Linked DNA regions of Homo sapiens. The protein of the gene in region 5 purifies or fractionates together with the protein of the main gene of each other region. This does not show direct contact. Each region holds a gene or a part of one and is shown on either strand. Other genes may lie near its edges. The genes, in order: ADCY3, ZC3H14, CYP4X1, SLC25A16, SLC22A24, ODR4 and GDE1.

Region 1 (3,500 bases), on a different chromosome or scaffold from region 5:
CTTTCCTATCAAAGTTGTTACTTAGTCTACCGCTTATCTGCCACATGATCCTGGGAGAACTTCCTAACTTTCTGGGCCTGTTTCCACAACCTCAACACTGACATAAAATCGGCAGTCTCCTAGGGGGGCTCCGCGCGTGTGTAAAAGCATTCTCCCTGGTATACAGGTCACCCAGTCAATGCTGACCGGCTCTGAATTTGAGGAGACAGTCCCAGGACAGAGAGGTCTCGAGATGTTGCTTGGCCAGTCCTTATCCTTATCCTGTGACCCTGTGGGTGATTTCCCGGGCTCCCACCTCACCTCCCCTTCCCCAGCCCAGCAGTTCCAGGTGGCTGCAGAAGTCCATGTATTGCGGAAGGGGCTTATCTGGGAAAATGAAGCCAGTTTCTCTGGCCTCTGCAGCCTATTGTAGGATGTGATGTGGAATGGGCCGGCTTCATGGCCAGAGTGCAGGGTGGGATGGGCACTCACAGAGTCAAAATCTGAGATGATTTCATTGAGGAAACGCAGACACTCAATACCACCATTGTTGATGCTCTCCTCTGTGTAGAAGTCAGCAAAGTTGGGCAGGGAGGCAAACATGACTCCAATCTCATCATACGTCTGGCTATACAGCTCCTAAAAAGAGGTGCGGACAACGTGCTCAAAGCATGTCCGACTGACTGGATGATGTGTTGGAGAAATGCATCTATCTTCCATGCATGACATGTGCACTCAGCTTTTTGGACTCACACATCAGTCAGATTATTCCAGCATTTTTTTTTTTTTTTTTAAGAGTGGGTCTTGCTGTGTTTCCCAGGCTGGAGTGCAGTGGCAGTAAACAAGCACAATTAGGTATGATCGAAGCACACTGCGGCCTTGAACACCAGGTATCTGGGACCACAGACACATGTCACCATGCCCGGCTGTAGATTATTCCAACTCTGAATAATTTAAAAATAGCTCATCGCTACTTTTTTTTTTTTTTTTTGAGAGATGGAGTCTTGCTGTGTCACCCAGGCTGGAGTTGAGTGGCACAATCTCAGCTCACTGCAACCTCCACCTCCCGGGTTCAAGTGAGTCTCCTGTCTCAGTTTCCCGAGTAGCTGGGACGACAGGTGTGCACCACCGCGTCCAGTTAATTTTTGTATTTTTTAGTAGAGACAGGGTTTCACTATTTGTTGCCCAGGCTGGTCTCAAACTCCTGACCTCAGATGATCCACCCGCCTCGGCCTCCCAAAGTGCCGGGATTACAGGCATGAGCCACTGTGCCCGGCCACTACTTTGAATAAATTTTAAAACAGCTTCTCTAGTTCCTCTAACAGCCCCAGCTGTGAAGACGAGGGTACCGTAGAGCTGGGAACCACTCTGTTTGGAGAAGTTCACAGGCAACAGAAAGGTGGGCTCTAGCCAAAGTCTTGTCTTCTGACACATGGCCTCAGAGCTGTACGGCCCACATCACGATGCCTACAGCAGTGCACTTTATAAGAGGCCGGAGAAATTCCTCTTTTGCTTATTTGTGTTTGCTGTTTAGGTTCAGCCCTACCTAGGCCCCAGTCCCCTGTCCCTGAGAAGGCCTGGGCCCAGCGGGGGCTGCCTGAAAGAAAGAACAGATGGAGACAAATGGCCTCATGGTTCCGGGCTGAGACCACACCCCTCACCTCATCTCTCTTCTTGGACCCCAGGAAATGGCGTGCCACGTGCTCAGGCAACATGTTGGTGACCAAGGCCTCGTTCCAGCGTCGCATCTCATAGACACGTTCCTTCTGGTCGTGGACCTCAATCTTCCACAAGAAAAGTGTCCGTGCCAGTTTTTCTACCTACAGACACAGACAAGGCGAGGCATGTGCTCTAAGCTGGCCACTGGATAGAAGGATGAAAAACAGGAATGGCCAGGCGTGGCGGTTCATGCCTGTAATCCCAGCACTTTGGGAGGCCGAGGCAGGCGGATCACCTGAGGTCAGGAGTTCGAGACCAGCCTGACCAACATGGTGAAACCCTGTCTCTACTAAAAATACAAAAATTAGCCGGGCATGGTGGCGGGCACCTGTAATCCCAGCTACTCGGGAGGCTGAGGCAGGAGAATCAACTTGAACCCAGGAGGCAGAGGTTGCAGTGAGCCGAGATCGCACCACTGCACTCCAGCCTGGGCAAAAGAGTGAGACTCAGTCTCAAAAAAAGAAGAAAAACAGGAACGTGAATGGAGGAACTCCCCTTGGAAAGGCTGGAAGGAAGATGGCTAAATGGCAAGGGAAGTAAGACCCTGCAAAGATTGCACCTCATCAAAAGGCCACCCAATAGTGGTGCGGTTCCCAGCCTCCGTAATTACAGCAGAGATCCAGGAGGCCTTCCGTGTGTAGGGGGCCTCTTGGGACCTAATTTCAGCTGCAGGTCTGTCTCGTGGAGGTGGCAGCAGTGGGGATCTCCCAACTCAGGGTGGAGTCCCCCTTTCTAGCAGGCGCCATTTGGGTAAGAAGTGGCTTGGGAAGGCTGTACTTCCCTGGAAAGCCAGTAGGGGGCACTTGAACTAACATTGGGCCCTAAGTACAGAGGATCTTTCTCTTCCCTCTCTTCCTTCTCTTTTCCTTTTTTGTCCGGTTGAGTGCGGTGGTTGTGGCGGGGGGGGGGGGGGTGCGGGGGGGGTGTCTCACTTTGTCACCCAGGCTGGAGTGCAGTGGTGTGATCTCAGCTTACTACAGCCTCAACCTCCTAGATTCAAGCAATCCTCCTGCCTCAGCCTCTCAAGTAGCTGGGATTACAGGTGCGGGCCACCATGCCTGGCTAATTTTTGTATTTTTTAGTAGAGACAGGGTTTCACCATATTGCCCAGGCTGGTCTCAGACTCCTGGACTCAAGTGATCCTCCACCCTCAGCCTCCCAAAATGAGCCACTGCACCGGCCTTCTCTTTTCCTTTTAACCCAACAGAAAGTCCATCAGCTCCCTTCTCTTTCTCTTCTGGCTCTGTGGTCAGTTGTGTTAATGTCCCTCAGCGCCACGGGGAGTGCGGGGGCCATGAGCCCCTGGCCTAGGGGATATTGATTTGATTCAAGATGTTTGTGCCTTCACTCTATCCCCTCCCACCTTCACTCCCATGCTTCCTTCACCATCCTGGAGGGGGTCGGACGGAAGAGGTGAGGAACTGTCTTCCTGTGTGACTGAGGAAGGAGCCTGAATAGAGAAGGCGGTGGCCTGACCAGGCTCACGTGTGGGGCTGGGTGAAGGGAAGCCCCATTCCTTAGGAGCTTGGGCTCTTAGGTCCCAGGGCTGCTTCTCAGGAGGCCCTGTGGGCTGTGGGCACAGAGCGGGGATCGTGCAGGCGGCACTCACGTGGCGGGAGAAGTAGTAGAAGCTGAGCATCATGAGGAACACCATCACCGTCATAGAGTACTTGGAAGGCACCAGGGGCAGCCTGCTGGGCAGAGCGTGTGCAACTGAAAGGGCTGTCATCTGCCTCCTGGAGGGGGCCTGATTCCCTCCAACTAGATGGTGCTGCTTCCTGCCACCCCAGCCCTAGAGCTCA
Region 2 (3,500 bases), on a different chromosome or scaffold from region 5:
AGCTGATTCTGAAATGCAAACAACTGATGGGTGTCATTTTGTGTTGTCAAATTCTGTACTCTCTGGCCGACCTGTTGTAGCCAATGTGTAAACTTGTGTTAAGAAGCTGATGGTAATGAGCTACTCTAAAAAGATTTAAGTTTTGCTGTGGATTTGGTGGGTGTACTTACAGCATTGCCCTGCTTATCCACTCTCTCGCTTTTTTTTGTGACCCCCCTTCCTAAAATGAGGTAAACTGTAGCCATCAGTTTTTTTATTTGTTTTCTTTTTTTGAGGCGAAGTCTTGCTCTGTTGCCCAGGCTGGAGTGCAGTGGTGTGATCTTGGCTTACTGCAATCTCTGCCTCCTGGGTCCAAGCGATTCTCCTGCCTCAGCCTCCCAAGTAGCTGGGATTACAGGCGCCCACTACCATGCCAGGCTAATTTTTTTGTATTTTTAGTAGAGGCGGGGTTCCACCATGTTGGCCAGGCTGGTCTCGTACTCCTGACCTCAGGTGATCACCTGCCTCCTCGGCCTCCCAAAATGCTGGGATTACAAGCGTGAGCCACCGCGCCTGGCACCATCAGTTTTTGATCCTGATACTTGTCTGTCCTCTTGGTTCTCCTCATCCCTAATTTAACCTTGAACACAAAATTCAACAGGTTTTGGCATATAGAATAAAGATTATCAGGCAAAGGCGCACTCTTGACCTAATGATATATCTACATTTCATTTCCTGATCTATCAGCAATATTAATTGTCTAGAATGATGAGAAGTTTAGAGAAGTTCCATGACTTTGAAATTTTCTTTCTTTACCTAGGTTATCTAAATTACAATTTGAAACTCATATAAGATCATGAAGCTAAGCTTAAATAAACCGCATTTTGTTGAAAATGAATACATATGTACTATATTGTATTCATGGTATGTGGTTGTATGGATATTGTTTACATATGTTTGGATAAATAGGTTCAGGTATCTATCTCAGTAACGTAAGAAAAAATGAATGGTATCTATGGATTGAACTCCTCATATATATGTTCTTTTCTTTTCTTTTTCTTTTTTTTTTGGAGACAGAGTCTCACTCTGTTGCCCAGGCTGGAGTGCACAGTGGTGCAATCTCGGCTCACTGCAACCTCCGCCTTCCGGGTTTAAGCAATTCTCCTGCCTCAGCCTCCTGAGTAGTTGGGATTACAGGTGTGTGCCACTATGCCCGGCTAGTGTTTGTATTTTTAGTAGAAACGAGGTTTTACCATGTTGGCCAGGCTGGTCTCAAACTCCTGACCTCAAGTGATCCACCCACCTTGCCTCCCAAAGTGCTGAGATTACAGGCATGAGCCACTGCGCCCAGCCTGAACTCATATGTCCTAAACCAAAGGAGGCATTTATATTTAATATGACATAGTCACTGTGGAGTTTTGACGTATTACTGCATTTGTATTTCTATCTTTTTTGCTTTTATGTGAAAGTTCCACAGAAACAGACACTTCCAGTTGCTCCCAGAACTCGAACTTCTCAAGAAGAATTGCTAGCAGAAGTGGTCCAGGGACAAAGTAGGACCCCCAGAATAAGTCCCCCCATTAAAGAAGAGGAAACAAAAGGAGATTCTGTAGAAAAAAATCAAGGTAATAACTTAAATGATGTTTCACTCTTTACTACAGTTTTTTCATGAGGCATTGAATATTTTCCAATGGATTTTTATGAAATATTACACTATGAAAAAAGTGATGATTAAGCCCAGAAATAGAATGAGAAGAATACCATGAGGAAGGTTCATACCAACACTTCAGAAAAAAATTTTTTTTTTAAAGAGGTAGGGTCTTGCTGTGTTGCCCAGGCAGTCCTCAAACTCCTGGGCTCAAGCAGTCCTCCTGCCTCAGCATCCTTAGTAGCTGGAGGTGTGTACAAGTGTGTGCCACTGCACCCAGCCCTTTCTAGAAATTTTTGAAAGTCTTTTTATTGTGGAAATTTTTAATATTCTCAAAAATGGAAAGGCTAGTACAGTGAACTCTCATGAACCCAGTCATTAAGCCTTAGTTATTATCAGAATTTTGCTGGTCTTTAGATAGCTCCTTCTTAAAGATATATTTATTTCTGCATTCTTTCTTTTTCTCTTTTTGTTGATCCTGCCCGTTTACCTGAACTTGAAATTTTAGTTACCTTTAAATCTCCCGTCTCTTAAGCATCCTGTCTCTGACCTCCCATATGTGTCCCAGCAACCCTAATTTATCCCCTCGTGCCTAACATACTTCAGTTTGCTTCCAGGTTTTTTTTTTTTTTTTTTTTTTTTGCTTTTTTCTCAGCTTTCTCCCCCAATTCCTATACAATCTTTTGACTTTGAAAGTGTGTCTCTCATCTTCTGACTCCTTTGTGAAAGTATCTCTCCCCTCCTCCTCATTACCCAGAACTAACGCTATTAGTTTGGACTTTTGGTGTCTGTTATCTGACCCCTGGGCCTGCACAGCCCTTCTCCATGACTCTTCAGACCTTTTGTCTCTTTTGTCGTCAAGAAGGATTCTTTTTTCTTCTGTTTCTTTTTCTACTAAGATTTGAATTTTAAGACCCCACCAAAAAAATCTATATGCTTATTATGTTATTTCTCACATACTTTTCAAGAACCTTGGAATATATTTTTTCATTTCTTCAAAACTGTCCTTTAAATTGTTCCAGGTTTCATGAAACCTTATGATTTCAGAATTGTCAATTCTGTATTTGTTTCCTCATTGTGTCTCTTTAAAAATTTTTGACTGTATTGTTCAGTTTGCCATGACAGCGTTATATACTATTCTGATAATTGATAGGCCTGAGGACAAGACCTGTTTGGTCCCCAAACAGCAGATAGGTACCAATTGGAAAATGTGAATGGGCCAAATTGAGAAGAGGAGCTGAAACTGAGGAGGGATTTTGCTCAGTGCAGTGGCAGATGAGGCTGATCTAAAAGGACTGCAGTGGTCTACTCCCTGTGGAGTCTGTAGTGTGTTGCACCAAGGTTTTCTTCAAACACAGGACTCTACGTGAGAGTCTTGGAGTGGAATCAGATGGAGCAGGGAAACAGACAATAGAGAAAAGGAAAGAATGTCAGATAAAAATAGGAGAGGAAAACAATAGGAAATCTCAAAGCAAGGTGCCATATTTTTTAACATCACAAAATCAACAGAAGAAGGTTGTTGATTCTGAAGTTAGAATAGCTATCCAAAGCAAACTTTCCCCTAAAATGAACAACAGAAAAGTATCAAGGTCAAGTCCTGTGCCGAATTAAAAGATAAAAGGGAATAAAAGACAAAACAGCATTGTTTCAATGAAAGCATGCTGAAAGGTATACCAAAAAGAAATACAATTTCAAAGTGAGCTAGAAGACATTATTTAAATAATACAAGACAAAGCCAAGAAAAACATAAAACAGAAGAACTTTGAGGCTGGGTGCAGTGGCTCATGCCTGTAATCCCAACACTTTGGGAGGCTGAGGCAGGAGGATCACTTGAGACTAGCCTGGGCAGCATAGCAAAACCCTGTCTCGACAA
Region 3 (3,500 bases), on a different chromosome or scaffold from region 5:
TGTATATGCACAATTTTTGTCAGTTAAAAAATAAATTAAAAATGATTACTCAACATTGTATTTTGTGCTATATAGATTAAATCTTTAGTTTATGGTAGGAAAGGGCTTCTATTTCCTTATAAAATGAGATCTCTGATATACTTTTATAATGTCAAATTTGGTTTTACAAATGTTTCAATTGAGTTGACTTTTGCATATGAAATATGGTGTTTTTTATCTGGTCATGCTGCTGAATTGTCCTTAGCATTTCTGTCTTTCTGTCCCTTTGACCAGATTATGTCAGGAACACATTTTATCTTTGCAAACAGCATAACCTGGGCTTTATTAACAGCAGTATATGCTTAAAGTCTAGCAAGATAGAGATGACAGTTTCCACCTGGCTAACTCCTACTTATCCTGCAGTCAGCGTAAATGTCAAGGAAGTCTCCTTGAGCTCCCATGCCAGGGTAGGTACCTGTCTTCTATGTCTTTGTGTTAGCCAGCACATATCTCTATCATTGCCCTCATTATGCTACACTGCAATTTGGAGGTCTGTCTCCTGTCTCCTGTATTAGACCATTAGCTCACCGAAGACAGGGCCCACAATAAATTGTAGTCATAAAAAAAGTCTCAGTATTTAAAATGTCCTCAGTCCATATTTGCTAAACTTAACTATAGTATATATCATCGAATATTATGTCTGAAGTCTAAAATCAATCCTGAGGAATAAAATTGGTGACAAGCGGCTGGGAGATGTCTAAAATGAGCCTTAAATAATGCAGCTAATCATTCAGCTCTCTCAGAAGAGGAGCTCCACTTGGACCCTATTGTTTAAGTTCTAAGTGCCAGCCCAGGGATCAAGTCCTCATTTCCAATGCATCAGAGCCAAGGTGAAATAAAGAAATAAGACATTTCACACACCATTGATTAGAAAACCAATGACAGACAATTTATGGATAAATAAACTTTTTTTTTTTTTCCTGAAAGACAAGAGAATAATTTGGAGCTCTCTTTAGAAAGAACAGAAAAGTAGCCTACTTCTTCTGTTTCACCTACACATATCCTGAGGCACTAGGGTCACTAAGGTACCAGCGCAAAAAATAAAGCAAAATCTCAGGGGGAAAACTAGCAGGAAAATTTAGGGGTGCAGATCTTACCAAGTGATAGAAGACCCATCCCCCAGGATGCCCCTGACCTCCTCCCGGCATCTCTCTTGATGCTCAGGGTTCAGAGCCAGGCAGTAAAGGATCCAGGAGATGCTTGCTGCCAAGGTGTCATGTCCTGCCAACAGGAATGTGCTCACTTCAGAGTGTACATCAATATCTGAGAAGCTGCTACCACTTTCATCCTAGAAAGTACAATACAAATATTTTAAATAAAATGCCAGTTTATAAATGTTTGGAGATACAACCACAATAATGATTTGAGGGGAAAAATCAGAGCTTTAAATAGGGGTTTAAATTTTAATTCAGTTCAACAAATATGTGGTATAAACCATATTCTGCCCAAAGCATAAAGGAGAACCAAGGTTAGATAAGAAAAGCAGGCCTTGCACAAAGGGCCCTCAATCAACAGGCCCTAGAAATTCTCTTCAAACTCCCAGATTTCCCAGGACCTTATCATCATAATTTTTACGTTTATCCATGTGACCATTTTTTCATGATGCCCTAAAATCCATGTATCCATATGACAATCCTCAAATCTTGTCAAATCGTTCGTTTAGTCTTTACTAACCCTCCTCTAGCGACACAGTTGCAGAATTCTCTCTTTGTCTCAAATTGCATGAAGCTGCTCATCAATTCAAAGTACAGTTAAATTTAGTCAATCGGTTTTATTCTTGTCTCCCCATCCCATTCCCACTTACCCACCTACTTACATAATTAACTGGTCACTTGAGCAGGCTTAGAAATTTAGAAGATTTACCTTGGCAGAAAGGACAATATCCAGAAAATCCTGGTACTTCCTCTTCGGAGTGTTATCCTGCTTTACCCCAGCCTGGAGGGATTTCTTTCTTTCCTGGATTATTGTATCTGGGTAGAAAAATAGTTTCCAATTACCAAAGTGATGGCAAAGTCAAATAAATTATAAAGCAAGCCATGGTTAGTGAATAGCTTCAAATCTTGCCTGATTTCCAGACGTTTAAATAGATCTAATTTTCACAGATGGTTTATTTTCTCATCAAAGGGACTTTTGATTAAAGCTCCAAAGATAAACAACACAAATAAAAAACATAGTTTCCATCAGTATGTGGGCAATAAAATTAAGATGATTTCAAGTTTAGATGCAAGTGACCAATTATTCTTTTCTTCCTCAGTCTAATATTTTATCTTCACGGAAAAGTTATTAAATAAAATGGAATGAAATAGAAGACAGGCAAAGAAATGCCAATATATTTATAATTGAAGGAGCTGAGAGAAAAAAAACAAAACAAAAATATGGAACAGAGGTAATATTTATTTACTATTTAAAAAATTTCAACTTTTATTTTAGATACAGGGGTACATGTACAGGTTTGTTACATGGGTAATATGAGAACTCTCTGTACTTTCTGCTGAATTTTTCTGCAAACCTAAAACTTTTCTAAAAATAAGGTCTATTAATGTTGAAAAAAGCCACAAAATCTCCTTAATTAAAACAGTGTGATTCTGGTACATTGGTAGATAGATCAATGGAATACACGAGAACATCCAAATATACTCTTATCCAAAACAGATACCAGTACATGTATCCGTTTAGAATGTGATGGTTATCTCAAATCACTTGAAAAGATAAACTTTTAAATAATGGTGATGGGACAACTGGATAAACATTTGGAAAAATTAGATCAATACCTCACACCATATATAGGAATAAATTCTAAATGGAGTTTAGATCTCTGATTTAAATATGAAAATAATGAAATTATACAAGTACTACAAGAAAACATAAATAATTTTCTCTACAACCTGGGTACAGGGCAGTGGTTCTCAACTGGGGGCCCTGGGAACATTCAATAATGTCTGGAGTTATTTATGGTTGCTATAACTATCAGAGCTCTACTACATCGAGTGGGTAGATGTCAGGGATGTAGCTAAACATCCTACAATGCACACATCTTGACAACAAGGACTTATCTAATCTAAGAAGCCATTAGTGCTGAGGGTTGAGAAACCCTGGAATAGAGAATGGCTTTTTGTGATTACTAAAAATCCAGATGCAATAAAATAAAATATTGATATATTTGACTAAATAAAAATAAACAATTTAAAAAAATTAGCCAGGTGTGGTGGCAGTGCCTGTAATCCCAGCTACTCAGAAGGCTGAGGTAGGAGAATTGCCTGAACCTGGGAGGTGGAGGTTGTAGTGAGCTGAGATCACACCACTGCGCTCCAGCCTGAGTGATAGAGACTCCATCTCAAAAAAAAAAAAAAAAAAAAATTGAAAAGGTTTTAAGTTTTGAATAAATTTAACATTTAATATTTTCCCTAACACTTTGCATTTTGCTTTTTCATCATAATTGTATAATATTTAAAAAGTAAAGA
Region 4 (3,500 bases), on a different chromosome or scaffold from region 5:
ACCTGCAACCTGTGCTTTCCCCAATGGCACTCATATAATCTAAACCAAATTAAATATTTTAATAGAAAATTAATTTGTCAGAAATAAAATATACCTAACTCCTCTTACCTGCCATGGATCCAGCCATTAATCTGTGCACATGACCTGAAATTCCCAGCTTCGTAGTAATTAACTAGAAAACAAGAACACTGAATTAAATGAGATATTTTTTAAATGCTGCCCATTTCACTGTTTAATAATGAAGATTTATTTCAAGAGTTACAGGACTAATAAAAAGGAAATTAATAATAAATGTGAACGAAATGAGCACAATTAAATACAGCTTGGCAGTGTTATATCACAGCAGAAGGGGATATTTCCTCTGTAGTCTCTGCTTTAATTTTTTGCATTTCTGCAGAAGCAAGCTAGCTTAGTATTGCTAAGTATATGATACTGTGTATTAAGGAACACAAGCCCTTAACAAGTGACTGGGGGTAGTAGGAATAAACTGCTACTTTTTTTTTTTTTTTTTTTTTTTTTTGAGATGAAGTCTCGCTCTGTGTCCCAGGCTGGATTGCAGTGGCACGATCTCGGCTCACTGCAACCTAGATTCAAGCGATTCTCCTGCCTCGGCCTCCCAAGTAGCTGGGACTACAGCCGTGTGCCATTACGCCCGGCTAATTTTTTATTTTTTAGTAGAGACGGGGTTTCACCACATTGGTCAGGCTGGTCTCGAACTCCTGACCTCAGGTGATCCACCCACCTCGGCCTCTCAAAGTGCTGGGATTATAGGCTGAAGCCACCGCACCCAGCCTAATTTTTTATTTTATTTTTTAAATGCTCTATAGACAATGAAGTCCTGATACACAAATGGCATCAATTCTCTTTGGCTGACTAGCTTAGAATGTTGTTCCGATCTCTGCTGCTTGTGTTTTTTTTGTTTTTTTTTTTGAGACAGAGTCTGGCTCTGTCGCCCAGGCTGGAGTGCAGTGGTGCGATCTCGGCTCACTGCAAGCTCCGCCTCCTGGGTTCACACCATTCTCCTGCCTCAGCCTCCTGAGTAGCTGGGTTTCACCATGTTAGCCAGGATGGTCTCGATCTCCTGAACTTGTGATCCGCCCGCCTCGGCATCCCAAAGTGCTGGGGATTACAGGCATGAGCCACCGCACCCGGCCTTGTTTTTTGTTTTTTGTTTTGATTCGGAGTCTCACTCTGTCACCCAGGCTGGAGTGCAATGGCACGATCTTGGCTCACTGCAACCTCCGTATCCCGGGTTCAAGCGATTATCCTGCCTCAGCCTCCTGAGTAGCTGGGATTATAGGCATGCGCCACCACATCCAGCTAATTTTGTATTTTTAGTAGAGAAGGGGTCTCTCCATGTTGGTCAGGCTGGTCTCAAACTTCCGACCTCAGCTGATACTCCCACCTCGGCCTCCCAAAGTGCTGTGATTACAAGCATGAGCCACTGTGCCCAGCCAGTTTCACTATTTTGTTTAATAAGAAAATCCAAAGTCACAGTGTTCCTCTCCTACAATTGAGTAACAAAAAGCACACTAAAGGCTGGGGCCCACAGATAGCTTGGGCCCAGGAGTTCGAGACTAGCATGGGCAACACAGTGAGACCCCATCTCTACAAAATATTTTTTAAAAAATCAGCCAGGCCTCTTCTCCACCTCTGAAAAAGAAAGAAAAAACAAATTAGCCGGGGGTGGTGGCACATGCCTCTAGTGCCAGTTACTCAGGAGGCTGAAGTGGGAGAATTGCTTGAGTCCGTGAGGTTGAGGCTGCAGTAAGCCAGGACCACATCACTGCACTCCAGCCTAGGTGACAGAGAAACTATCTCAAAAAAGAAAGAAAAGAAAAGAAAAGAGGGAGGGAAGGAGGGAAGGGAAACACATTAAAAATATATTAATATTATATGGATTTATTATTATCTTCTTTAAAGATATTCTAGCTCTCATTCATTAGGAGTGAACATAAAGAATTTACTTGGCCGGGTGCAGTGGCTATGCCTGTAATCCCAAGAATTTGGGAGGCCAAGGTGGGCAGATCACCTGAATCAGGAGTTCCAGACCAGCCTGACCAACATGGTGAAACCCCGCCTCTACTAAAAATACAAAATTAGCCAGGAATGGTGGTGCATGCCTGTAAGAATCTGGGAGGCAGAGATTGCAGTGAGCCAAGATCATGTCATTGCACTCCAGCCTAGGGAACAAAAGTGAAACTCCGTCTGAAAAAATAAATAAATAAAGGCCGGGCACGGTGGCTCAAGCCTGTAATCCCAGCATTTTGGGAGACGGAGGCGGGTGGATCACGCGGTCAGGAGTTCAGGACCAGCCTGGCCAAGATGGTGAAACCCCATCTCTACTAAAAATACAAAAATTAGCTGGGTGTGGTGGCGGGCGCCTGTAATTCCAGCTACTCAGGAGGCTGAGGCAAAGAACTGCTTGAACCCAGGAGATGGAGGTGGCAGTGAGCCAAGAGTGCACCACTGCACTCCAGCCTGGGCAACAGAGTGAGACTCCATCTCAAAAAATAAAATTAAATAAATAAATAAATAAATAACTCATAAATGACTAACAATTCTGGAATCGGTAATTCCAAAGACAAGTTATATTTAAAATCTTAAGCTGTCACAAGTCTTATTCCTTTAAAAAGGCATTGCTATATCAAAAGTAACTTTTTGGCCTGGTACCATGGCTCATGCCTGCAATCCCAACACTTTGGGAGGCCAGGAGTTTGAGACAAGCCTGGCCAAAATGGCAAAACGCTGTCTCTACTAAACATACAAAAATTAGCCAGGCATGGTGGCATAGGCCTGTAATCCCAGCTACTCAGGAGGCTGAGGCAGGAGAATCGCTTGAACCCAGGAGGCGAGGTTGCAGTGAGCCTTTCAAAATCGTGCCACTGTACCCCAGCCTGGGCAGCGAGACTCTGTCTCAAAAATTAAAAAAAAAAAACCAATAATTTAACTTTTTAAAAATATGAAACTTTTACATATTTTTAAATGTCCAAAGCAAATGCCTGGTCAAGCATGCATGATATTCAAGAACGCAAAAGAGAAAAGATCAAAGTTTAACTACCGTTTTATAATGCTCAAATGCCATAAACTGGATTGCACCATAGGGAAAGATTCGAATCATCATTGCACCATTTCCTTTATACAATCCAAGGAATCCTTCTTTTTGAGGAACAGCACGCAATGCAGAAAATACTCCTATTTTTAGAGGAAAAATGCTGTTAAAACAGAGAAAATTATCTAAACCTAAATTTTCATGACAATCACAGATAAAGATTAATGTGCCATCACTCAAGATATAATTTTGCTTGAGGGATTACATGAATAGTAATTTCTATAAAACAGTTAAACCTACTAAAAATGCATCATATATCCAAATAATATAAATAAGCACACCCCATATAATATAAAACCTACTGTAGAAACAACTACAAATTACAGCAAATTCTATTTATAATAATAGCAAATTATATTAAACTATAGCAATCTAAAAAATATTAACA
Region 5 (4,121 bases):
AGGATACAATTGGAGAAACTGGTCATTTTTCCAAGGCTTTGACTGGAATGGCATGCTTCTTGTAAAGAATCAAAGTTGACTTATGGAACCAATTAAAACCCACTGGGGAATCTGGCCTCATACCTTGTCCAGACAGAGTCCCTGTACAAGGTTCCTGACCTGTGTTAAGTAAAGAATGTCACTTTCTAACAGGCCCAGGAACCCCAAGTTATCTTGAGGAGAGGACTTTGTTCAACTCATAGGTATCTGAGGGTTCAAACCCATGGCTGGGCTCGGCTTTTAAAAAGCCTTATCTGAGATTCTTCATGGAACAGAGTTTCATCAAAGCCAATTAAAAAAGCCTAAGTGAAAAATAATTATTCTTGCTGCACTTTATGCAAATAATCAGGCCAAGTACAGTGAAACTAAAGTTTGTTTTGTAAACTGTAAGTCAGTTCTATCATAATTTGTTTTTAATAAAAATAGGGACTGGAGAGAGAAAAATTATGCTTCAAAAGAAAAACTATATTACACTTTTGTTAGCTGTTCTTGATGTTTTTTTTTCTGCAGGTTAGACTAAATTCTAAATTATTTGTGAGTTAGAAGGCCCCAGACAAATGCTTTCCAATCTTTGCTTTTAAAATTGGGAATTGTACTCCTCATCCTAGGACTCATTATTTACCTTATAGCATGCTCTTCATTTAAATACTGTACTAAAACTATAGATGAGAGTACTAATATTTTTGCCACACAAGCCTTGGAAGCCCATCCAGGCCTGCATGAATACACTCAGTAGCAAAGCAGTTCCACTCTTCTCACCTTGGGGTTCACTCCCATTCCCATTATGTCCCCTGTCAGCAGGAAGAAGCTGGAGTGATAGATGGCCTTTTCCCGTCTTCATAGCCTACATCTTAAGATTAAGGTGTTATAAAACCCAAAGGGAGGGATTGAAACTGCCTTTGCAAAATTATGACTGAGACCGTGAAAGAGATCTAACTTAACCGACTCCATCTTGCTTCTGACCTCCAAGCTGTCCTTGTGCATTCCTGGGCATAGGCTGAACTAACTTTGGGAGAAACTTAGTTTGTAGTTTATAGTTTGAACAAAGACAGCCTTTCCCAAAGCAGACCTCCTTCTTGCCTGGGGACTAGATTAACGTTAGCCACAGGATTAGAAATTATCATTTAGTAGTCACACAGCTGGAGGCTACAAGATTCTGACCCTCCCTAAACTGCTCCTAAGATCAGTGCTTGAGATATTTTGCAGATCCCGCACTTGATGGATCAGCTGTCACCACCCAGATCGATAAACTGGCTCATCTGATCTTGTGACCCCCACTTAGGAAGTGACTCAGCACAAGAAGGCAGCTTTGACTCCCTATGATTTCAGCCCTGATCAGTCAGCACTCTTGGCTCACTGGCTGCCCCCCAACCACCAAGTTATCCTTAAAAACTCTGCTCCCCGAATGCTCAGGGAGACTAATTTGAGTAGTAATAAAACTCTGGCCTCCCTCAAAAAACAAAAAGCAAAAAACAAAAACAACCAAAACTAAGTATCTCAACAACATTTTGTAGGAGAAACACTTTCACAACCAGCAGAATGCAGAAAAATTTGTCAAATCCCAAAGCGTGGATATTTATGTTACAGAATTAACAAACTTATTTCTCATTGCCAAAAATGTGTTGATTGTAATGGTTCCTATTTTGATTAATAAAGATGTGTTTGAGCCTAGTTATAATGATTTAAAATTCATGGTCTAATACCACAATTTACTTTTACACCAATATAATACTAATACACTTGGCTGTATCGTAGAGTATTAATAGATAATCAGGTGCTGCCACCTGCTAAAGGAATGAAGAATGAGCTGACTGCAGGTCCCATCTAAGGACTAAAGGTATAAAGCAAGTCAATTTTTTTGTGTTAACTCCAAACACTTTAATCATATAAACAGAAGATTTACATGGGGCCTCTTACCTCAGTCACGATGGTGGAGAGGAAAGAGCTTCTGTCGTACACCCAGCCATCCACACAGGGCTCCGTGTCTGGCTCATTTGTGTTGGGGAAGGTCCCGTTCAGGTGAAGGAGCTGCCACTGGGGATGGATAAAGCGCTGACACTTCTGTGGCCTCAGGTTTGAGTCCAGTGGGATGGAGATTCTCAGGAGGTCATCCTTGCTGAGGGTCCCGGTATCATTGTCAGACACAGTGTCATTGTCCAGGAGGGGGACCCAGCAGCGATGACTAGGGGTGAATGCAGTGAAGTTCTCCAACACAATATTAGGGAACAGTAGGATGTTGGTGATGCAAAAGAAAGCTATCAGACAAATCTGGAATCTCCCCATGCCACCCACTTGATCCAGGAGCACATCAAAGCCCATTGAGACTGAACAGGTGATCCCCAAGAGGAAGCACAATGACTTTATGAAGAGAAGTTCAGAGGGAGAAAATGTCCCCTTTCACAAAGTTACCATAGTGCCATGTGGATCCTGACACTGCTTTCTTCTTGGTGGGCCCTGCACTGAGTGGTGTGACACTACTGCAGAAGAGCAGTGGAAGGACTTTCCCCAAGTCCTTTAACTTTAGGCAGCCAAATAGTTTCAGAAGTCACAGATATAATTATTTGGCAAAGAGACTGCTAGCTGTTGACAACTGAATCTTCTTAAAAGACTACTCTGTGAAAGATCCTGATCTCTGAGTTTCCTGATAAGTCAACGGTGGATTTTCAGGTGGATGCAGTCCCCACGTGACCTAAAATACACCTGTTCAATAGTCTGCCATTCTTCTTAGAAATGGGATATTAGAAAATCCAAAGTGAATTGCTTTATGATGTTCTTGTACAAAGATCAGAGAGCAGGGCTTTTTTTGGACTAGGACTGAGTTTTACTAAAAGTTAATAAAAACTATTCTTAGTTAAAGGAAAGTGGAATGTTGAGTTTAAACATTGACTTTTGCTAAGTGTAGTTCTGCTTCAGTTCAAGTCATACCAATGACAGGGCTTTAAAGATTTTTTAAAATAGGGAAATTAGGATAAGAAACAAAGAGAAAGGAAATAGTGCTTTTATGTATTATAGTAGTATATTTCACCAGATTTATTGATTCATTCAAATATCATTTTGGGCTTTCTGGTGCTATTGCTGTAAATAAAGCAATGTTAACTTACATATATTTATTTATAAGTTTAAAATAAAATTTGAGCTCAATGTCTCATATAAATGATAGGTTTGTAAATAATTGTACTGTAATGTCATCATATAACTATAAGGAAGATACACAGTGTGCTATGGAAGATTAAGGAGAAACTGTTTAATGATACCTGGATAGATGCCATGGAGCAGGGGAGTCATCCCTCTACAAATTAACTTTACCTACTCTTTTTTTTTTTGAGACAAAGTATCACTCTGTCACCAGGCTGGAGTGCAGCGGTGGGATCTTGGCTCTCTGCAGCCTTGACCTCCTGGGTTCAATCAATTCTCATGTCTCAGCCTCCCAAGTAGCTGGGATTACAGGCATTCACCCACATGCCCAGCTAATTTTTGTATTTTTTATGGAGAAGGGGTTTCATCATATTGGCCAGGCTGGCCTCAAACTCCTGACCTCATGTGATCTGCCCACCTCAGCCTCTGAAAGTGCTGGGATTACAGGCATGAGCCACCATGCCCAGCCAGCTTGACCTACTCTTGTGGGAAGATTCTTGAGATAATGAAGCAGTGGATGAGGGACTGCAAGAGTCAATTTTTAAATGAGGGAATAATAAGTACACAATTACAGTTAAAGGTGTGGCATAATTGTGTACCTACAAGGATATTCAAAAGCTAGCAGCTAAATAGCATGCACGGATATAATGGGAAAAGACAGGTTGATTAAAAAGAAACCCAAAGAAACAAACAGAATCTCCAGAATTTATTCTGCCTACAAGAAGTTCTTATTTTTGAATTTCAAACTGGTCACCCGTGAAACATCTTAAGATGCAGATTCCTGGATGGGTGCAGTGGCTCACACCCATAATCCCAGCTACTCAGGAGGCTGAGGCAGGAGAGCCACTTGAACCTGGGAGTGAAGGTTGCAGTGAGCTGAGATTGTGCCACTGCACTCCAGCCTGGGTGACACAGCAAGACTCTGTCTCAAAAAAAAAAAAAAAAAA
Region 6 (3,500 bases), on a different chromosome or scaffold from region 5:
AAGATACTGTAACTCAGCCTTTTTTAAACGTAATGAAGTCTGTTAGAGTAATAGCTGAGAAGCATATAAACTAGTGTAGTTTATATAAATAGTACCTACTAAAGGAGCTATTATATAGTATTTAACACTAATAATATTTTGATTATGGCTAAATTATTTAAAATACTCATAGATATCAACAAAAAATACTAACTTTAAAATGTTAACAAAGTTTACTCATTCTGGCAGGAGAAGTTCACTTGGAATTAATTTTTTTAAAAATCCTCCCTGAAATTCTTAATTGTTGACAAATTTGCTAAATTTGATAGTGTTCTAAAACGTTTTTCTAGAGCCAAGCATGGTGGCTCACACCTGTAATCCCAGCACTTCGGGAAGCCAAAGACAGTGGATCACTTGAGTTCAGGAGTTTGAAACTAGCCTGGGCAACATGGCAAAACCCTGTCTCTAAAAAAACAATACCAAAAATTAGCAAGGCATCATGGCATGTGCCTGCAGGCCCACCTACTAGGGAGGCTGAGGTAGGAGGACTGCTTGAGCCCAAGAGGCTGAGGCTGCAGGTGAGCCATGACTGTGCCACTGCACCCCAGCCTGGGCAACACAGTGAGACTCTGTCTAAAAAAAAAAAAAAAAATCTGAGTAGCAACTGAAAAATTTTCATCCAATAATAAAAGATGATATACTGCTTGAAAATATAGATAGGTAGCTATAAAAGATGACGTATCTGCTATATCTTGATATCTTATTACTATATCAGTTGAAGATACGCAAAAAAGTACTTATTTTATACTCATAACTTTTTTTTCTGGAATTTCATTCAAAAGCAGATCCTCAAATAGCATTTCACAACGATCAGCAACTGTGTTCAATATATCCCTCTTTACTGCCTACAGGGAAAAACACACAAAAAACACAGTAAGAAATAAAATACTTTAGATTTACAATATTTAACTAACAAAAAAAATAATTTGCTTTCCAGTACAATCATGCCCACTAAATAACTGATACATCATTCAATGTTTTATTTCCACTTATTTAGCACACTTATTAACAAATTTATAGTTTAATGATAAATTTATCTAAATAGTTAAAAACAGATAAATGAATAAAATTTCACATCTAAAAAAATAATTGCAGTGTTCCAAATTAGATACTAATATGTATAACAGTGGAACACTTACTAAACTTGTATAGCCATCATTTTTAAAAAGGCACAAAATAGATACTCTACATATGAAAATCTTCACACCAATTATATGGTACATTTGGACTGCACAATAGGCCATTATCAGTTAAAATCGAATTAATAATTACAAAATATAAGATTAAAAAATGGTAAAATTTTAGGTTTTTGTTAATAGTTAACATGGTTCCATATGCTCGTTATTCCTTTTTGTACCTGCACAGCATCTTTAACTTTGGGTTTACTGCTGTGGATATAAGCTCTGCATTTCACAGCACCCTTAAGGTTTACAGAACCGCTACATATCTGGACTGTGGCTGTGGATCTGTGGTCTGAATTCAGGAGCTGAAAGACAAAATCTGTTTAAGTTCTAATAACCAACAATGATTAACTACAGGAAATATTTAAACATTATATTAGCGATTTTATGAAGAGAGAACAAAGTTTTGACTGAGCCAAGCATTTGAAATTATTCTCTGCAAATTATTTAAAGGCCTTCATATTTGTTTTTATAAGTTATATATTATTTTCCAGTCATTTTGAAGATATAATGAAATTAAACACAACTACATCTAAATTTTTCTAACATAACCATCTAAAATGGTTCAATATTCACTCGATATGCTCCTAAAAATATATTATTTGCAAATTATTCACATCAGTACTGTGATGATTAAAAGATATACAAAGAAGATATGATGTACTAGATATAAGTTGTGCAATGCAAAATAAGTTCACAATAACAAATACAAAGTGGGATGTGATAACTATGGTAAAACTACAAGCAATGCACAGACACATATATTTACACACTTTCAACCAAAAACTTTCATAGACTAGTCCCATCCTCTTTAGTCTAAGGAATGCCAGTGCTCTTGTTCGGTTTTCAGGTGTTTCACATATATTTTCAACCCCATCATCTTAATAAGTGCCAAAAACAAGGACAGTATCAAAATAGTTAAAGTACTACAGGTTGAGCATCCCTAATCTAAAAATCCTGAATGCTCCAAAATCCAAAACTTATTGAGCACCAATGTGATGTTCAAAGGAAAAGGTAATTGGAGCATATAAGATTTTAGATTTTTGGCTTAGAGATGCTCAACTGGTATGTATTCTGCAAATATTACAAAATCTAAAAAAAATCCCAAACCCAAAACACTTCTGGTCCTAAGCATTTCAAATAAGGCACACTCAACCTGTAATAGAGGCCTATAATAACAGTGGAAACAAAAAATAATGATTTACAAAAAATAACCAAAAAATGGAAATGGTAAGGAAGTAATTTATGTTCTAAGAACACTTGGAGTATAAGTCATTCAACAACCAAATCAATTCTGAAGAACAAAAGTCAAATCATACAACTTGTGAAAAGTGCTTTGTGCCTATGTGCTTATGCAATCAGGAATAAATGCGGAAAAATAATGAAGAGGAGAATACTGACATGCATAGCTATTGAAAGAGCATTATTGATGTCTAGTGTAATTCAAGCAATGTCTAAGGCAATGTAAATCTTCTAGGTGTTGTTAAACAATTTAAACTTTAAGATGGTCAAGGACTTGTTGACAAAAAATTTGCCACAGACCACACAGCTCCAAAGGTCCTGGGTCCATTCAAAAATGGCTATCATCAAACCAAGCAGCAGTGTGACGATGCTGATACAATGTCTGGAATAAGCTTCCATATGACACATGTAGAGTTCATTGATACATCAATAAGGTGGGGTTGGAGGAGGAGTAACAGGCTTCCCCTATCTACTCCATAACTTTTTATTGTAGACAAAACTACTCTAAAAAGAATGTCCTATTTTACATATTTAACATATAATTTATATATTTTTAACATATAACACATTTATATATTAGTATATGTAAATATATGTGTATGTGTGTATATACATATATCTATCTATCTATCTATCTATCTATCTATCTATCTATAATTATGGCATTGTTATCCAAAACAGACTAGACTATTAAAGACTATACACACACATATTAAAGAAAAGAGGTATTTTTTTGGTTGGTTGGTTAGTTTTATTTTGTTTTGTTTGAGGCAGGGTCTTGTTCTGTCATCCAGCCTAGAGTACAGTGATGCTATCAGAGCTCACTGCAGCCTCAAGCTCCTAGGCTCAATCGATCCTCCCACCTTCGCCTCCCAAGTAGCTGGGACTACAGGCACACACCATCACCCCCAGCTAATTTTTGTATTTTTTTGTAGAGACAGGGTTTCACTTGTTGCTCAGACTCATCTTGAACTCCTAGGCTCAAGCGATCACCCTGCCTAGGCCTCCCAAAGTGCTGGGATTACAGGCATGAGCTAC
Region 7 (3,500 bases), on a different chromosome or scaffold from region 5:
GGATTGTATGGTAGTTCTATATTTTTAGTTTTTTGAGAAACCTCCATACTGTTTTCCATAATGGCTGTACTAATTTACATTCCCACCAACAGAATATAAGAGTTCCTTTTGCTCTGTATCCTCGCCAGCATCTGTTATTTTAAAAATCTTTTAAATAATGGCCATTCTAACTAGATAAGATGGTACTTCATTGTGGTTTTGATTTGCATTTCCCTAATAATTTGTGGTGTTTTTTCATATGCCTGTTGGCCATTTGTGTGTCCTCTTTTGAAAAATGTTTATTCAAATTAGGATTTGAATAGATGTTTTTAATGGGATTATTATTGTTTTTGCTGTTAAGTTCCTTGTATATTCTGGATATTAGTTACTTGTCTGTTGAATAGTTTGCAAATATTTTCTCCTATTCAACAGGTTTTCTTTTTACTCTGTTGATTATTTCCTTTGCTGTGCAGAAGCTTTTTAGTTTAATATAGTCACATTTGCCTGTTTTTGTTGCCTGTGCTTTTGAGGTCTTAGCCATAAAATCTTTGCCTAGATCAATGTCCCAGAGCTTTTCCCCTGTGTTTTCTTCTAGTAGTTTTATAGTTTCTGGTCTTAAATTTAAACTTTTAATCCATTTTGTGTTGATTTTTTAAATATAGTGAGAGATAGGGGTCTAGTTTCATTATCCTGCATATGGATATCCAGTTTACCCAGTACCAGTTATTGAAGAGAGTTCCTTTCCCCCACTGTAATGTTCTTGGTGCCTTCATGGAAAATCAGTTGGCTGTAAATATATGGATTTATTTCTTGGTTCTCTATTGTATTCCACTGGTCTATGTATCTGTTTTGTGTGTGTGTGTGTGTGTGTGTGTGTGTGTGTGTGTGTGTCAGTATTTATACCAATACCATGCTGTTTTGGTTACTGTGGCTTTGTAGTATATCTTGAAATGAGGTAGTGTGATATGTCCAGCTTTGTCCTTTTTGTTCAGTATTGCTTTAGCTATTTGGGCTTCTTTACGGTTCCATATGAATTTTAGGATTGTTGCTTTTCTATTTCTCTGAAGAATGTCTTTGATATTTTGATAGGGATTGCACTGAATTGTAAATTATTTTGAGTAGAATGGTCACTTTAGGAATATTAATTCTTCTGATCCATGAGCATGGGATGTCTTTCCATTTGTGTCCTCTTAAGTTTTCTCATCAGTGTTTTGTAGTTTTCCTTGTAAGAGCTCTTTCACCTCTTTGGTTATATTTATTCCTAGGTATTTTGTTATTTTTTTTTTGGTAGCTATGTAAATGGGATTACTTTCTTGATTTCTTTTACAGCTAGTTCATTATTTACGTATAGACATGCTACTGATTTTTGTACGTTGATTTTATATCCTGCAATTTTACTAAATTTGTTTATCAGTTTTAACAGTTTTTTGGTGAAGTCTTTAGGTTTTTCTACATACAAAATCATGTTGTCAGCAAAGAGGTACAATCTGACTTCCTCTTTTTCCAATTTGGATGCCTTTTATTTCTTTCTCTTTCCTGATTGCTCTGGCTAGTCAATCATTCCATATTTAGCAAAATTGATATGAAGGTCGAAAGAATCATGGAGGAAGTAATTAACCATATTATCCAGAGTTTGCTGTACTTGGAACTGATAAAACTGAAAGTATCCAGTAAGTACAGACTAAATGTAATCATAAACTTCCCTTTTATTGCATAAGACTTTCAAACATGCTGTGGTTGCTTTTAAACACAAGTAGGTTGGGCTGTAATTGTGTAAGAAGCAACAAGTAAATGGTTTGCACAAGCACTTTTAGAAAGGTTAAGACAACTGGACCACATGGTGGTGCCCAAGACATTTTTAATTCATATCCTGGTGACAAGTGAGCATTGAAAACCCAAGACTCGTAGATGAGAAGAATTGAAGCACACAGACACCTGAGCACAGAGATTAGAGATTGATGGTCTTTGGTTTCTTATATTGTATAATGGATGTTATTTTTCTGTTTTTTGTTTTGTTTTGTTTTGATTTGTTTTCCTTTTCTGGTAATTCTGTGCTTCTGACACTAGCTATAAATTGGGGTTCCCACCTCCTCCTCCTTGGGTTCAATTAATTTGTTAGAGTGGCTTGCGGAACTCAAACACGTTTACAGGTTTATTATAAAGTATGTTACACAGCATACAGATGAAGACATGCATAGGGTGAGGTATGGGGAAAGGGGCATAGAGCTTCCATGCCCTTTCTGAGTGCTCCATCATTCAGGAACCTCCATGTGTTCAAATACAGATATTCTTGACCAAAGACCAGCAACAACAACAAAAATCATTTAATTTTTAAGAAATCACTGAATTTCTATTGAATTAATAACATTATTAATAACCCTACTTCCCAAAGGGCAGAGTATATGCCACCTTTGGAAAACTCAAAGACTTAATTTTCAGATTGTAATTTCCCTAATAGAATGCTATGCAGGAGGAATTCTTAGGAATACATAAATCTGTTAACTGTATTGTGTATTTATTTAAGTGCAACTGTTTAAAATAAATAATGTTCTAAGACATAATTTTCTGATAAAGAAAATGAAAACTAAGTGCTTGATACAAAAGAAATTAGCTTTTCTCTCATAATAAAATTATTATTTAACTTAATGCTAATTCAACTGCATTATTTCAACTGTAAGATCATGCTTTTAAAAAAGGGTAAGGATAGGCCAGGTACAGTGGGCTCATGCCTGTAAATTCAGCACTTTGGGAAGCTGAGGCAGGCAGATCACCTGAGGTCAGGAGTTCGAGACCAGCCTGGCCAACATGGCGAAACCCCGTTTCTACTAAAAATGCAAAAATTAGCTGGGTGTGGTGGCATGTGCCTGTAATCCCAGCATTCTGGAGGCTGAGGCAGGAGAATCACTTGAACCCGGGAGGTGGAGGTTGCAGTGAGCCAAGATCATGCCATTGCACTCCAAACTGGGCAACAAGAGTGAAACTCCAACTCAAAAAAAAAAAAAAAAAAGATAAGGATAATTTAAACATTACAGGCAATTATCCCAGCCATTCTAATCAATTTCTATTCCCTGAGAGTGAAAGATGGGAGACCTGAATTTGTTATTCCTTTGGCTGATCTTAGTTTCCTCCTTATCCTCCTCTCAGGACAAGCATCTCATCACACTGAGCATAATTCTAGAGAAAATATCTATTTTTTCCCACAACATAATCCGTAAACACAAGCCAATTACTTCATTTAGTTTTCAATCATAGAACACACTCTGTTCCAATAGTGGAGCAAAGACTGGTTGTGTTAAAGACACTGAGATAATATGTTGCCTTTGCTGTCTTCTTAAGGGATTTTTTGAAAATCACAATTTTTTTTCCTAGGATGCACAAATTCCAGAGAAATGGACTCAGTGCTCCCTTAAAGGATTTTTAAGGGTAATGATGACCCTAAACATTTTTGCTTTAAGTATTAACTTTGAACCTGACATTTTATTAGCTGCAATGTCATTATAATATTCAAACCAGCCTTTCCC

The links.
Region 1: the proteins of SLC22A24 (region 5) and ADCY3 purify together in Homo sapiens (affinity purification with mass spectrometry; one large-scale study listed by BioGRID and IntAct). This does not show direct contact.
Region 2: the proteins of SLC22A24 (region 5) and ZC3H14 purify together in Homo sapiens (affinity purification with mass spectrometry; one large-scale study listed by BioGRID and IntAct). This does not show direct contact.
Region 3: the proteins of SLC22A24 (region 5) and CYP4X1 purify together in Homo sapiens (affinity purification with mass spectrometry; one large-scale study listed by BioGRID and IntAct). This does not show direct contact.
Region 4: the proteins of SLC22A24 (region 5) and SLC25A16 purify together in Homo sapiens (affinity purification with mass spectrometry; one large-scale study listed by BioGRID and IntAct). This does not show direct contact.
Region 6: the proteins of SLC22A24 (region 5) and ODR4 purify together in Homo sapiens (affinity purification with mass spectrometry; one large-scale study listed by BioGRID and IntAct). This does not show direct contact.
Region 7: the proteins of SLC22A24 (region 5) and GDE1 purify together in Homo sapiens (affinity purification with mass spectrometry; one large-scale study listed by BioGRID and IntAct). This does not show direct contact.

The regions. Positions count from the first base shown.
Region 1 is NC_000002.12:24,822,738-24,826,237, forward strand, and holds part of ADCY3 (adenylate cyclase type 3), read right to left. Parts: intron 3,393-3,500; coding exon of another isoform or gene 3,390-3,392; coding exon 3,308-3,389; intron 1,800-3,307; coding exon 1,641-1,799; intron 619-1,640; coding exon 472-618; intron 1-471.
Region 2 is NC_000014.9:88,576,537-88,580,036, forward strand, and holds part of ZC3H14 (zinc finger CCCH domain-containing protein 14), read left to right. Parts: intron 1-1,448; coding exon 1,449-1,604; intron 1,605-3,500. UniProt on the Homo sapiens protein: RNA-binding protein involved in the biogenesis of circular RNAs (circRNAs), which are produced by back-splicing circularization of pre-mRNAs.
Region 3 is NC_000001.11:47,037,169-47,040,668, reverse strand, and holds part of CYP4X1 (cytochrome P450 4X1), read right to left. Parts: intron 2,010-3,500; coding exon 1,903-2,009; intron 1,328-1,902; coding exon 1,137-1,327; intron 1-1,136. UniProt on the Homo sapiens protein: A cytochrome P450 monooxygenase that selectively catalyzes the epoxidation of the last double bond of the arachidonoyl moiety of anandamide, potentially modulating endocannabinoid signaling.
Region 4 is NC_000010.11:68,503,524-68,507,023, forward strand, and holds part of SLC25A16 (solute carrier family 25 member 16), read right to left. Parts: intron 3,196-3,500; coding exon 3,062-3,195; intron 173-3,061; coding exon 109-172; intron 1-108. UniProt on the Homo sapiens protein: May be involved in the transport of coenzyme A in the mitochondrial matrix. Very little is known about the physiological function of this carrier.
Region 5 is NC_000011.10:63,141,422-63,145,542, forward strand, and holds the start of SLC22A24 (steroid transmembrane transporter SLC22A24), read right to left. Parts: upstream 2,801-4,121; 5' UTR 2,359-2,800; coding exon 1,957-2,358; intron 1-1,956. UniProt on the Homo sapiens protein: Renal transmembrane organic anion/dicarboxylate exchanger that participates in the reabsorption of conjugated steroids including estradiol-17beta-D-glucuronide (or 17beta-estradiol 17-O-(beta-D-glucuronate)), androstanediol glucuronide (or 5alpha-androstane-3alpha,17beta-diol 3-O-(beta-D-glucuronate)), and estrone 3-sulfate, as well as bile acids taurocholate and glycocholate, driven by an outward gradient of dicarboxylates such as glutarate or succinate.
Region 6 is NC_000001.11:186,396,338-186,399,837, reverse strand, and holds part of ODR4 (protein odr-4 homolog), read right to left. Parts: intron 1,540-3,500; coding exon of another isoform or gene 1,526-1,539; coding exon 1,397-1,525; intron 885-1,396; coding exon 794-884; intron 1-793. UniProt on the Homo sapiens protein: May play a role in the trafficking of a subset of G-protein coupled receptors.
Region 7 is NC_000016.10:19,512,099-19,515,598, forward strand, and holds part of GDE1 (glycerophosphodiester phosphodiesterase 1), read right to left. Parts: intron 1-3,500. UniProt on the Homo sapiens protein: Hydrolyzes the phosphodiester bond of glycerophosphodiesters such as glycerophosphoinositol (GroPIns) and glycerophosphoethanolamine (GroPEth), to yield a glycerol phosphate and an alcohol.